3 linked regions of the Homo sapiens genome follow. The protein of the gene in region 2 purifies or fractionates together with the protein of the main gene of each other region. This does not show direct contact. Each region holds a gene or a part of one and is shown on either strand. Other genes may lie near its edges.

What was found.
Region 1: the proteins of EEF2K (region 2) and PANK4 fractionate together in Homo sapiens (co-fractionation; one large-scale study listed by BioGRID). This does not show direct contact.
Region 3: the proteins of EEF2K (region 2) and WDFY3 purify together in Homo sapiens (affinity purification with mass spectrometry; one large-scale study listed by BioGRID and IntAct). This does not show direct contact.

What each region holds. Positions count from the first base shown.
Region 1 is NC_000001.11:2,516,559-2,520,208, forward strand, and holds part of PANK4 (4'-phosphopantetheine phosphatase), read right to left. Parts: intron 3,397-3,650; coding exon 3,243-3,396; intron 2,767-3,242; coding exon 2,585-2,766; intron 2,040-2,584; coding exon 1,958-2,039; intron 1,707-1,957; coding exon 1,606-1,706; intron 1,336-1,605; coding exon of another isoform or gene 1,324-1,335; exon of another isoform or gene 1-1,323. UniProt on the Homo sapiens protein: Phosphatase which shows a preference for 4'-phosphopantetheine and its oxidatively damaged forms (sulfonate or S-sulfonate), providing strong indirect evidence that the phosphatase activity pre-empts damage in the coenzyme A (CoA) pathway.
Region 2 is NC_000016.10:22,212,769-22,216,418, reverse strand, and holds part of EEF2K (eukaryotic elongation factor 2 kinase), read right to left. Parts: intron 1-3,650. UniProt on the Homo sapiens protein: Threonine kinase that regulates protein synthesis by controlling the rate of peptide chain elongation.
Region 3 is NC_000004.12:84,820,105-84,823,754, forward strand, and holds part of WDFY3 (WD repeat and FYVE domain-containing protein 3), read right to left. Parts: intron 1,448-3,650; coding exon 980-1,447; intron 83-979; coding exon 1-82. UniProt on the Homo sapiens protein: Required for selective macroautophagy (aggrephagy). Acts as an adapter protein by linking specific proteins destined for degradation to the core autophagic machinery members, such as the ATG5-ATG12-ATG16L E3-like ligase, SQSTM1 and LC3.

The sequences.
Region 1 (3,650 bases), on a different chromosome or scaffold from region 2:
CCCCACAGGTCACATGCTGGCCCTCTGCCCTTCTCCACTGGGGCACCCCTGCTGGCAACCCCTGGGGCTGGAGAAGCAGCCTCTGGGTGGGCAGGGACCTCCAGAGCAAAGGGGACGCCTTCCAGGTGGGAAGCCCATGCCGGGCAGAAGCTCCACGTGGAAAAAGCCAGTGACTTCCCAAAGCCAGTGCAGAAGGCGGCAGGAGCCCCACCTTAACTACCACGGACCACAGCCGGGATCGCCTGGTGCTGCCTTGCCAGGTCGCAGGCTCCTTCTATCCTGACAAATGGGTTCAAATCTTCGCTTTGACTTTTTTGGACAATATAAACTGAAATAAATGACTCCATCTCTCTGCATGTCAGTTTGATCCTCAGTAAGGTGGGGGCCCCTCCTGCCTGGCAGGGCTGTGCCACTGGTGGGGTACCAAATAGGTAACAAGCGCCTCCTGAACGGGGCCCCCGAAGCACTGTGGCCGTCCACGCAGTCACTCCAGGTTACAGTCCAGGACATTTGGCAAATTATGCACACTTGGCAAATCAGAAACTGAGGCTGGAAGACACCAAGCCCCTCTGCCCAACAGCAGGGCAAAAGCTGAGAGCCTGGGGCTCTGCCAGGCCCCCAGAGCCTCGCCCCCACTCCCCTGCCTAGTGCTGGCGGTGGGAAAGGCAGACCAGGGCTGCGGCCAGTGTGGTGCGTCTGTGCGAGGCCGTGGCCTGGTGTGAACTGCAGGACCCACACAAAAGGGAGGCGCCCTCCTGAGAAGCCAAAACTCAACAAGTCGCGGTCTTGAAAATACTGACACTGAACCCCATGTCTACAAATGACAAGCAACTTCCTGCCAACAATGCCAGCGGCCTGTCCTGAGGGGTCCGACTAGCTTTGTGCGTGACCTCAGGTTAACTGCTCACAGCTACAGAAGGAATGAGCCCCGCGGGGGGGCACGGTCGAGGACCCTGACAGCCTGTGACACGGGGCGGTTCCTGCCATGTGGGGCTGTGCTGGGGGCATCCCGTGGCTGACGCAGGTCCTGGCGGGGGACCCTTCCGGAGCAGCTCCAACTCGGCAGACATGGGGTGCGTCTCCTAGCCCGCCAGTGCCACCCAGCTCAGGCCAGGGCAAACCCACTGGGGATCCAAGGAATGAGCCGGGACACCCCGAGGAGAGCAGACTGTAACCGACAGACCATCAGCCACAGTGCGCGGCAGTGTGCGGCAGAGCGCGCAGTCCTAGGCAGGGCCCTGGGTGGCTCCTGCGGTTTCGGGTTTCAACTCCAAAGTGGACGGGCCTTCTGGCGTGGGGAGAGGTCCCCGTCACCCCTGAACTTTAGCAATCTCTCTGCAAACAAGAAGGCCGGATCACACAGACTCCGTAATTCCTGCTGAATGTTTCCAAAATACGAAAGCACCCAATGAGGGAGATGGGAAAGCAAGCCACAGTGTCCTTCTCTTGCCCCTAGTTATACCCCAGGTCCATGGGAGGATTCGCCATGGGCAGAGGCGCCTTTCAGCCGGGACAGCCACAAGAGGCTTCGCTCAGGGACAGGCGAGGTGAGTGCGGCATAGGCTGCTCCCCTGGGGCCCGGGGCGGCCAGAGCCCACTACTCACAGTGCCACTCCGCGCCCGCTGCGCCGGGCCGAGCTCGGGTGATGCACTCATCAGCCCGGAGCTGCCTGCATAGTTCTCTCCCCAGCTGTACTGGTTAGGATCTGGAAAGCAAGAAGCCAGGTCACTTGTGTTAACCTTGCCCTTGATTCAAAAGCAGGAGAGTGGAGGAGGAAAGGGTATAAAATCGCTTATTAACTAAATTGTTAAAATGTTAGACATGCCTGCTGCTGTCACTTTCTGAGGACTCACGCTCCCCACCCCACCTCCACCCTGGGCCGCCCTGGCCTGGAGCACAGGCCCAGGCCACAGCTGAGGCCCCACGCTGCTCAGGGGCGCCAGCACCGCGACTCACTGTCCTGCTCAGCTCCTTTCAGGAACGCTCCGATGGCTCCCAGGTAGCCTTCGTGCCTCAGAAACAGCGCCTGCACTTCCCCCTGCCGTGGCCAAAGCACACGTGCTGCTGTTGGCCCCACACAACACCCGGTGCCTCCGCAAACCAGCTCAACGTGCGCGGGCCTCGCACCGCGCGGCCCAAACCCTCGAAGAGGCGCCATGGCACCCACGGCATACTTGCCAGTGGAATCGCGCCTGGCACCAGAGGGCGGGCTGCTGTTTGAAGAAAGCTAAGGGTGAGATAGCTTCTCCCATGCAGCGAGTCCCTGGCCCACAAGTCTCTGCGTCAGGCATGTGGGTGGGCGTGCCTCTGCGGGGGCAGGGGCACCCTGACCCCAGCGCAGATCAGCAGGCCTGCCTGGAGCTCTCTAGAATGCTCATCACTGGTGATGTACTCAAACTCAGGTGGCCACGGTGCCACAAAATGTAGGCTGCCCAGAATCAGTCAGAAGGGAGGGGTGCTGGGCTTCTTGGCCCCCACCCTCCAGGCCTCCCTGGGGGTGCTGCGGTGTCTAACCAGCATGACTGATTGGGAAGATCCTGGGGGGTCTGCGTTAGAGGCTGGGGAGGGCGGCGCATCCGTTACCTTGGAGAAGAAGTTGATGCTATAGGTGATGGTGCGCATGGTCACGGGGTGGCCCCGGATAAAGAAGCCTCCAAAGTACACGCGGTCCAGGCTGTGCAGCCGTGCGTGGAGGCAGGCCAGCTGCCCAATGTCGTTGCTGATCATGTGCAGCAGGCTCTTCGCCATGTCTTCTTTGGAGAACTCTGAGGAAGGGAAGGAAAAGGCACTCATCTCCAAGTACAGCAAGTGCACGACATGAGAGCGAGCAGGAGGGGAGGGGGAGAGAGAGCTGAGTGGGAGGGGAGGGGGAGAGAGAGCTGAGTGGGAGGGGAGGGGGAGAGAGAGCTGAGTGGGGGAACTGGAGCCCAAGTGCGGGAGGCTGCGTGTGATGTGTGAATCATTCCTGGACGGATTAAGCTTTGTTTTGAAGGAGGAAAAAACCCAATCAGGAAACTATTTTTTCTTCCAAAACCAAGACCGTGGCGTTTATCTGCCGACGTTCTGAGCAGTGGGCCTGAGCTGCAGCGACTCGGCAGGAAGAGGTTACAGGGCTGACACCCAAGACCCCGACTCTCCAGGGAGCAGTTGTGGGAAAGCAATGGTGGGGGAAGCTCCTGTCCGTGAGACCCCAAGTGTCCCCACCATCCTGCTCTCTGGCGGCAGAGGCCGGGGTGAGCACCTTGGTCGGCGGTGGCCGACTTCCCGAAGCTGCTGGCGATGAGGTTCCCGCTCAGCCCGAGAGTCTGGTGGGCGCCGCCGTAGACGTCCCGCACCAGCATGTCCACATTGCTGTGCTGGCCCCTCGAGGCCAGGTGCAGGAGCTCGTCAAACTTCTGCAGGACACGGCGAGGGGGCGGGTGAGGCGCCAGGAGCTGCTGGAATCCCCACGACCCCAGAAACCAAGCCCATGGCAGGAGGCACGCGCGGGCAGGGGGTAAATGGGCCCTCATCGCGTGGGACCAAAGGCAGGAGGCGGCAAGCGGGACCCTCGGGCCACCCAGCCAGGATAGAAGCTCTGGGTTGCTGGGACACCCAACCCTCAGGGCGCAAAGAGTGAAGCCGCAGAGGCCAGAGACCCACTGACGCG
Region 2 (3,650 bases):
TAATTTCTATGGAAATAAGAAAGACAAATAATGCACGTGAAAGACTGACTGCACACCAGGTGCTACACTGGACTCTCCTCTGACAATGACAGGAGCTGCTAGGTCCAGAAGTGACAGTCTACCTCTGAAAAGGCAACCTTAAGGGAGCGGAACTACACAGCGCTAGGCTGTTGAGGGCTGCACCTGGCTTGTTCTGAAGATATTTTAAACCCTAGCTGGAGTCCCGAGTTTCCTTCAAACAAGAAACAAAAACCAAAGCCCAATACAGTGGCTAACAGCTTGTCCTCTACAGCCGCATGGCCAGGGTTTGAATCCTGGGCCCCACCATTAGGAGCTGGGACCCTCTCCTAGACAATAGACTTGTCAGGTGGGCTGTGACATCCTAAGGTCTGCACTGCTGTCTCCATCCCTCCCCCCATACCTTGTATTGCCTTCAGTGCACAGGTGCTCAACATGAACTCAAATACCCTTATGTTTAGTGTTTCTTTTGTTTTGAGATGGAGTCTCCCTCTGTTACCCAGGCTGGAGTGCAGTGGCGTGATCTCGGCTTACTGCAACCTCCGCCTCCCGGATTCAAGTGATTCTTCTGCCTCGGCCTCCCGAGTAGCTGGGATTACAGGCACCCGCCACCACACCTGGATAATTTTTGTATTTTTAGTAGAGACGGGGTTTCACCATGTTGGTCAGGCTAGTCTTGAACTCCTGACCTCAAGTGATCCACCCGCCTCAGCCTCCCAAAGAGATGGGATTATAGGTGTGAGTCACCGTGTCTGGCTGCTCAGTGTTTATTTACTGGGATGCAGCATTAGGAGTGATTAAGTCAAGCATCAAGCTAAGAGTTCACATCAGTGTCTTAATGTCTGCACCCCTAGCATATAATGGGTGCTCATAAACATTTATTTAAACTATTGAGAGAAATAGTACATCAGAATGAAAGGACCAATTTACAGAGTCCAGCCCATCCGTCCCTTCCTCCCTGCCATCTCAGCTTCCCAAGTTTCCAAGTCCAAGAATCAATCTCCATGCACCACCAAACTCTCCTCACCTCCTTGCCCTTGTATCTATCTGCAGGTGCCTCTGAGGCAGGCGAATAGGGTCTGGAGGCAGGGAACCTAAGGCTGATTCAGGCTGACTTCCTAGAACTAAATCAAAAGGAAAACCCCTACTTTCCAAGCCCAAGTAACAAAAGGACCAGAGGCTACTCCCTTTGCAACCCCCAACTTACCTGCGTGGCAGATGAAAAACTGAAGTTACCTCTGATTGGTCCCTTCCCACAACCAATCAGGCTGGTGCTGGCCAAGTCCTCGTTTGTATAGGAGTCTTCATTTGTAACTTCACTTCAGCCTCTGATTGGTCGCATTCCACAACCTATCAGACTGATCCCAGGCCATTACTTCATTTACATAGGGTGTACATCAAGTAACCAATGGGAAACCTCTAGAGGGTTTTTAAACCCCAGGCAATTCTGTAAGCAATCTGCTCAAGCCCACTCCCACCCTGTGGAGTGTACTTTTGTTTTCTGTAAATATTTGCTTTCGTTGCTTTCTTTCCTTGTTTTGTTCGTGTGTTTTGTCCAATTCTTTGCTCAAAATGCCAAGAACCTGGACACCCTCCACCAGTAACACCTCTGCCTGGAATCCCTTTCCCACTCACTAGCAAAACCCTTTAATCTCTTCAAGACGCAGCTCAAATGTTGACCTCCTCCAGAAAGCCTTCCTTGTTTGTTTCTTTTGGGTTTGTTGTTGTTGTTGTTGCTGAGAGAGTCTGGCTCTGTTGGCCAGGCTGGAGTGCAGTGGTGCAATCATAGCTCACTGCAGCCTCCAACTCCTGGGCTCAAGTGATCCTCCCACCTCAGCCTCCATTGTACCTGGGACTACAGGTGCATACCACCCACATCTGGCTAATTATGTTATTTTATTTTTATAGAGATGGGCGTCTCCCTACATTGCCCAGGCTGGTCTCTTTTCTTTTTTTTTTGAGACAGGGTCTCACTCTGTCACCCAGGCTGGAGTGCAATGGTGCAATCATGGCTCACGGCAGCCTCAGTCTCCCAAGCTCAAGTGATCCTCTTGCCTCTGAACTCCTGGCCTCAAGCGATCCTCTTGCCTCGACCTCCCAAAGTTGATTACATGCATGAGCTACTGCACCTGGCCTCCAGAAAGCCTTCCTTGGATAGTTCCCTCCTCTGTAAACAGGGGTCAGCTAACAGTACCCCTGCAGGGGTTGTTCTGAGGATACAATGAGATTAGGCACATGGTGTCTGGGATAGACTTGACTCTCAAAAGTACTAGCTGCTGTTATGTCCCAATAATCCTCCAGTCCCCGACTCCCTAAATCACTTCGCTCCCTACAAACCCTCCACAAGCAAATTTCATTATAACCTGAGGCCAGACTGTCTGCGGCAGGCAGAAACATGGCTCCCCTAAGATGGCTACATCCTAATCCCTGGAACCTGTGAATATGTTACCTTATATGGCAAAAGGGACTTTGCAGATGTGATTAAGGATCTTAAGATGGGAGACAGTCATGGATTATCCTGTGAGCCCAGTGTAATCACAAGGATCCTTATAAAAAGGAGGTAGAAGGGTCAGAGTTAGAGGAAGAGATGTGACCAAAGACAGAAAGGTGTGAAGTTGCCACACTGCTGGCTTCAAAGATGGAAGGGAGGGGCCAGGAGCCCAAGGAATGAGGACAGCCCCTAGAATCTGGAGAAGGCAAAGAAACCGATTTTCTCCTGGGGCCTCCAGAAGGAACACAGCCATGCTGACACCTAGATTTTAGAACTTCTGATCCCCAGGAACTATAAGATAATAAATGTGTTGTTTTAAAGCCACTAAGTAATTGCAGCAATTTGTTACAGCAGCAATTGGAAACTAACGAAGTCCTGAAGAGCAGCTCTCAACCTTGGGCAATTTTGCTCCCTCAAGGGACATTTGGCAATGTCTAGAGACATTTTCAGTTGTTGAAACTCTAGGGGTGCAACTAGCATCTAGTGGATAGAGGCCAGGGATGCTGCCAAACATCCTAAAATAAACAGAACAGTCCCCTGCAGTGAAGAAGGTCCGGCCCAATGTCAGTGCCGAGGCTGAGAAACCCAGCTCTAGAATGAATCTGGTGGAATTTCTTTCTTTTGTTTTTTGAGATGGAGTCTCACTCTGTCGCCCAGGCTGGAGTGCAGCAACTACATCTTGGCTCACTGCAAACTCCATCTCCCAGGTTCAAGTGATTCTTGTGCCTCAGCCTCCTGAGTAGCTGGGATTACAGGTGTGTGCCACCATGCCTGGCTCATTTTTGTATTTTTAGTAGAGACAGGGTTTCACCATGTCACCCAGGCTGATCTTGAACTCCTGACCTCAGGTGATCCACCCATCTCCGCCTCCCAAAGTGCTGGGATTACAGGCGTGAGCCACTGTGCCTGGCCTCTTTCTTTCTTTTTTAAGAGACTGGGTGGGTGTCTTGATCTCTCATCCAGGCTGGAGTGCAGTGGCATAATCACAGCTCACTGCATCCTTGAACTCCTGGGCTTAAGGGATCCTCCCGCCTCAGCCTCCTGAGTAGCTGGGACTACAGGCCTGTGCCACTATGCCTGGCTTATTTTAAAAAATTTTTTGTAGAGATGGTGTCTTGCCACTCCTGGACTCAAGTGATCC
Region 3 (3,650 bases), on a different chromosome or scaffold from region 2:
TGAAGAAGCACTGTCAAGGTCTCCATAACCAATAAAGCCAGGTGTTTTTGGTCTTCAACTGAACTATTATTTCTTGAGTCCCCTAAAAAAAGGTTCAAAGGTCCAAATTACAAAAGTGATAAGCTTATTTTTTCTTGATTCCGTTTTACTGTAATAATTTCTTTATTTCTTCAGTATTCAGTTTTACCCCTAATAGGACAGATATAATATAATCTTTAAAACGATGCATGCATCCAACATTTGGCAAAAGTAGGCTCAAAATCAATATTAACAGATTTTATTTCGGTATGCTTGCAAGTGGCCGTTATCCAATAAATATTAAAAATGAAAATGCAAAGGTTAAATATATCCTCTTCACAGAGGGTTTTCCTAATAAAGGATGTCAACAGGAGAACGCTAGATTTTGATACACCAAAAAGAGAGAAAAGTTCATGAATAAAGCTATCTATTCAACCTGTATTAATTCACATTTAATACTTATTAATTGCCAGATACTACTGTACTTTTATCAGATTTATCAGAGAGGTACCCAATGATAATACATTGTGTATATAACATCATTAAATATACGTATTTGCTCTGTACAATAAAAACACATTGAAGTAACTATACATTTAACTATATTTATTAGTTGTAATTAATAACAAATCTGATTATTTTCAGAAGCTTTTAAAGCTCGCTCTTAGAAGCACAAGGCAGTAGATACTAGTCATGTGGATCATACATGTTTTCCCTCAGTTTTTACCTTCCTTTAAACTCTCTCCAATACACTCACATAATTCTAGCTTCCTCCTCCTCAATTACCTAACAGAGGTTGAATGAACCTGTAAATTTTGGAAAATACAGTTCACTAATATGTCACAATAATGCACATTAGGAAGTCATTGAAATCAATAACCAAAGAATGGGAACAAGAACAAAAAATTCTCTGTTTTGAACCCCTTTTCAAATAAAAATAAAATTACAGACAATACTTTACCTTGTTCATTTAGTGCCTGAGTTGGATCCTTCAACAGGGCAGCATATTTATGCAAAAGGTTTACCATGACCTCCAAAAGGCCAACCTCCCTGAACACGTCTTTAAATATGTAGTCATGTCTTGTAAACTTAAGAAGTGTTTTCATTGCAATAATGCTACAGTGATAAGAAGAGCTAGATTTTAAGAGGATACTGACACTAATAAGTTCTTTACAAGGTATATAATTTAAGCTAAAAACAACAAACTCCAGCATCTCAAAGTATTTGTTTTGTACTTCTGGGAGTTTAGAAATCTTCTCTGCAAACTGTGACAATGTGTGCTGTGACTCTAGGATGAAGTAATTGGCATTGTCAGCCATGTAAATATTTGTGATAGCATCAAGGATGATTTGGGCAAGGAAGCTGGTTTTTGCTTTTAAAAATGCATTCTGAAGAACTGCAAAGGCCTGGACGTTTCTCACACTGTGACCTAGAACAGAAAAGAAAAACATAAAAGTAGGTACTATGTGATATTTTAATGATGGCAAACTAGTCTGTTTAAACACATCATGAATTATAACATTTATCAATTATTTACTAAGAACATAACCCTGTTTTCACAAAAGGTCTTATTTTTCTTCATCAGGTTCAAATCATTTAATTAAAAATAACAATGATTAAAACTTTAATGCATTATTATGAATATTTCAATTCAAAAATAGTGTATGTTGAAAAGTTAGACTGTTTTAGAGGGAATAAAAGCATATTATTATAAACATCCATGCTTCAGAGTTTAGAGTGGTAGTTTTATTATCTATGAGATTGATTTTGACTATAAGGACAGCTGTCTCTCAATTTAAAAAGACTTTGAGGCTGAAGAAGTTACAGGCCTGAGAGCAGCAATAATGAAGCAGGAAAACAGGAGGGGAAAATTTTTCTAAATTCCAGTTTTCCTTTATAATTAGAACACTGTGATTTTTATAAATTTTAAGCTGGAAGTTTGTTTTGTTTTCTAGCTAACAGTACAATTTCTTCATATAGACATTTGTTAAAGTAATTTATGGCCAGCTATTCAAACGTACCAAATGGGGAAAAAAAAACTTTATACATGGCTCTGGTGAGGCAAATTAGTGACAATAATTATAAAGAAATTAAGACAGAAAGTTCTATTTGAAGTACATGAAAATAAGCAGCTTGCCTGTAAAAGGAGTCCCCAGAACAATACCTATTAGGAGTATATGGCATTTCCAAGTATGACCAAAAAATTAACATAGTGTCTGACAGAATAAGCTGGATTTCAGAAAGAGTATAAACCAGAGAACTACCAAAATTAGTAAATGGAGCAGAAAGAACACTCAGGGCTGGGGGCAGTAGCTCACACCGGTAGTCCTAGCACTTTGGGAAGACTGCCTGAGGCCAGGAGTTCTAGACTAGCCTGGGTAACATAGCAAGACCACCTCCATTTCTACAAGAGATTTAAAAAAAAATTTAGCTGGGGATGGTGGCATGTGCCTGTAGTTCTAGCTACTCAGGAGGCTGAGGCAGGAGGCTGAGGCAGGAGGATTGCTTGAGCCCAGGAGTTTGAGGTTGCAGTGGGCTATGATCACACCACTGCACTTCAGCCTGGGCGACAGAAAGCAATCCTGTCTGTAAAATAAACAAACAAACAAACAAAAAAGAATGCTCAGAAATCTTGACTTCGACATTTCTTAAAAACACAGGAAATTTAAAAAATCTCCAGCCTATATATGATTTCAATTCTCTAATTTCTTGTTTATTACATGTATGGCAAATACCAAAAATTTATCTTTGTTTCCTGTGTCTATCAGTCTATCTAAGTTTGTTTTTTGGTTACCTACATAATATAAAAAGTAAAGATGTCTGGAAAAGAATAATCAACATCTCAGCAGCTTTTCAAAAAAATAGTTCATGTGATTATTAATTTATATGGAAAATCAAAAGACTTAGAATAGCCAATATGATTCTGAGAAGAAAGAACAAAACTGGACAACTTAAGTGACCTGATTTTAAGGCTTATTATAAAGCTACAGCAATCAAGACAGTGTGGTATTGGCTTAAGGACAGGTACATGGATCAATCAAACAAAATTCAGAAAGTGTCTCAGATATATGTAGTCATATATGATATTTTCAACAAAGGGTCTTGGCACATTCAGATACCCATATTAAAAAAGAAATCCTTACTTTCTACCCTCTATGATAATAACTTAAAATGTACCATAGACCTTAATTTAAAAGTTAAAATATGAAACACTGGATAAAGAAAAAATCAGAAGAAAACATTAGAGATCTTTGTGAATCTGAAGTAAAGATTTCTTCAATAGGAGAAAAACAATCACAAAATATTATTAAAATGAAAAACTGGACTTCATCAAAATTTAAAACTTCCATTTCTCAAAAGATGCGTTAAAAAAAAACCAGCAAGTCAAAACTAAGAGAACACACTTCCAAAATACATATTAAGGGATAAAGAACTTATACAGAATATCTAAAGAACTCTTATAACTCCAGTAAAACAACCCTATCAAACAATGGGCTCAGAGATCTGAACCAAGGTAGAGAAACAGATGGTGACAAAGCACATAAAAAATGCAAAACTTCATTAGTCAATTATAAAAATGAAAATTAAAATAACAATTAGACATTATTACATACTTAGTAGAATGTCTAAAA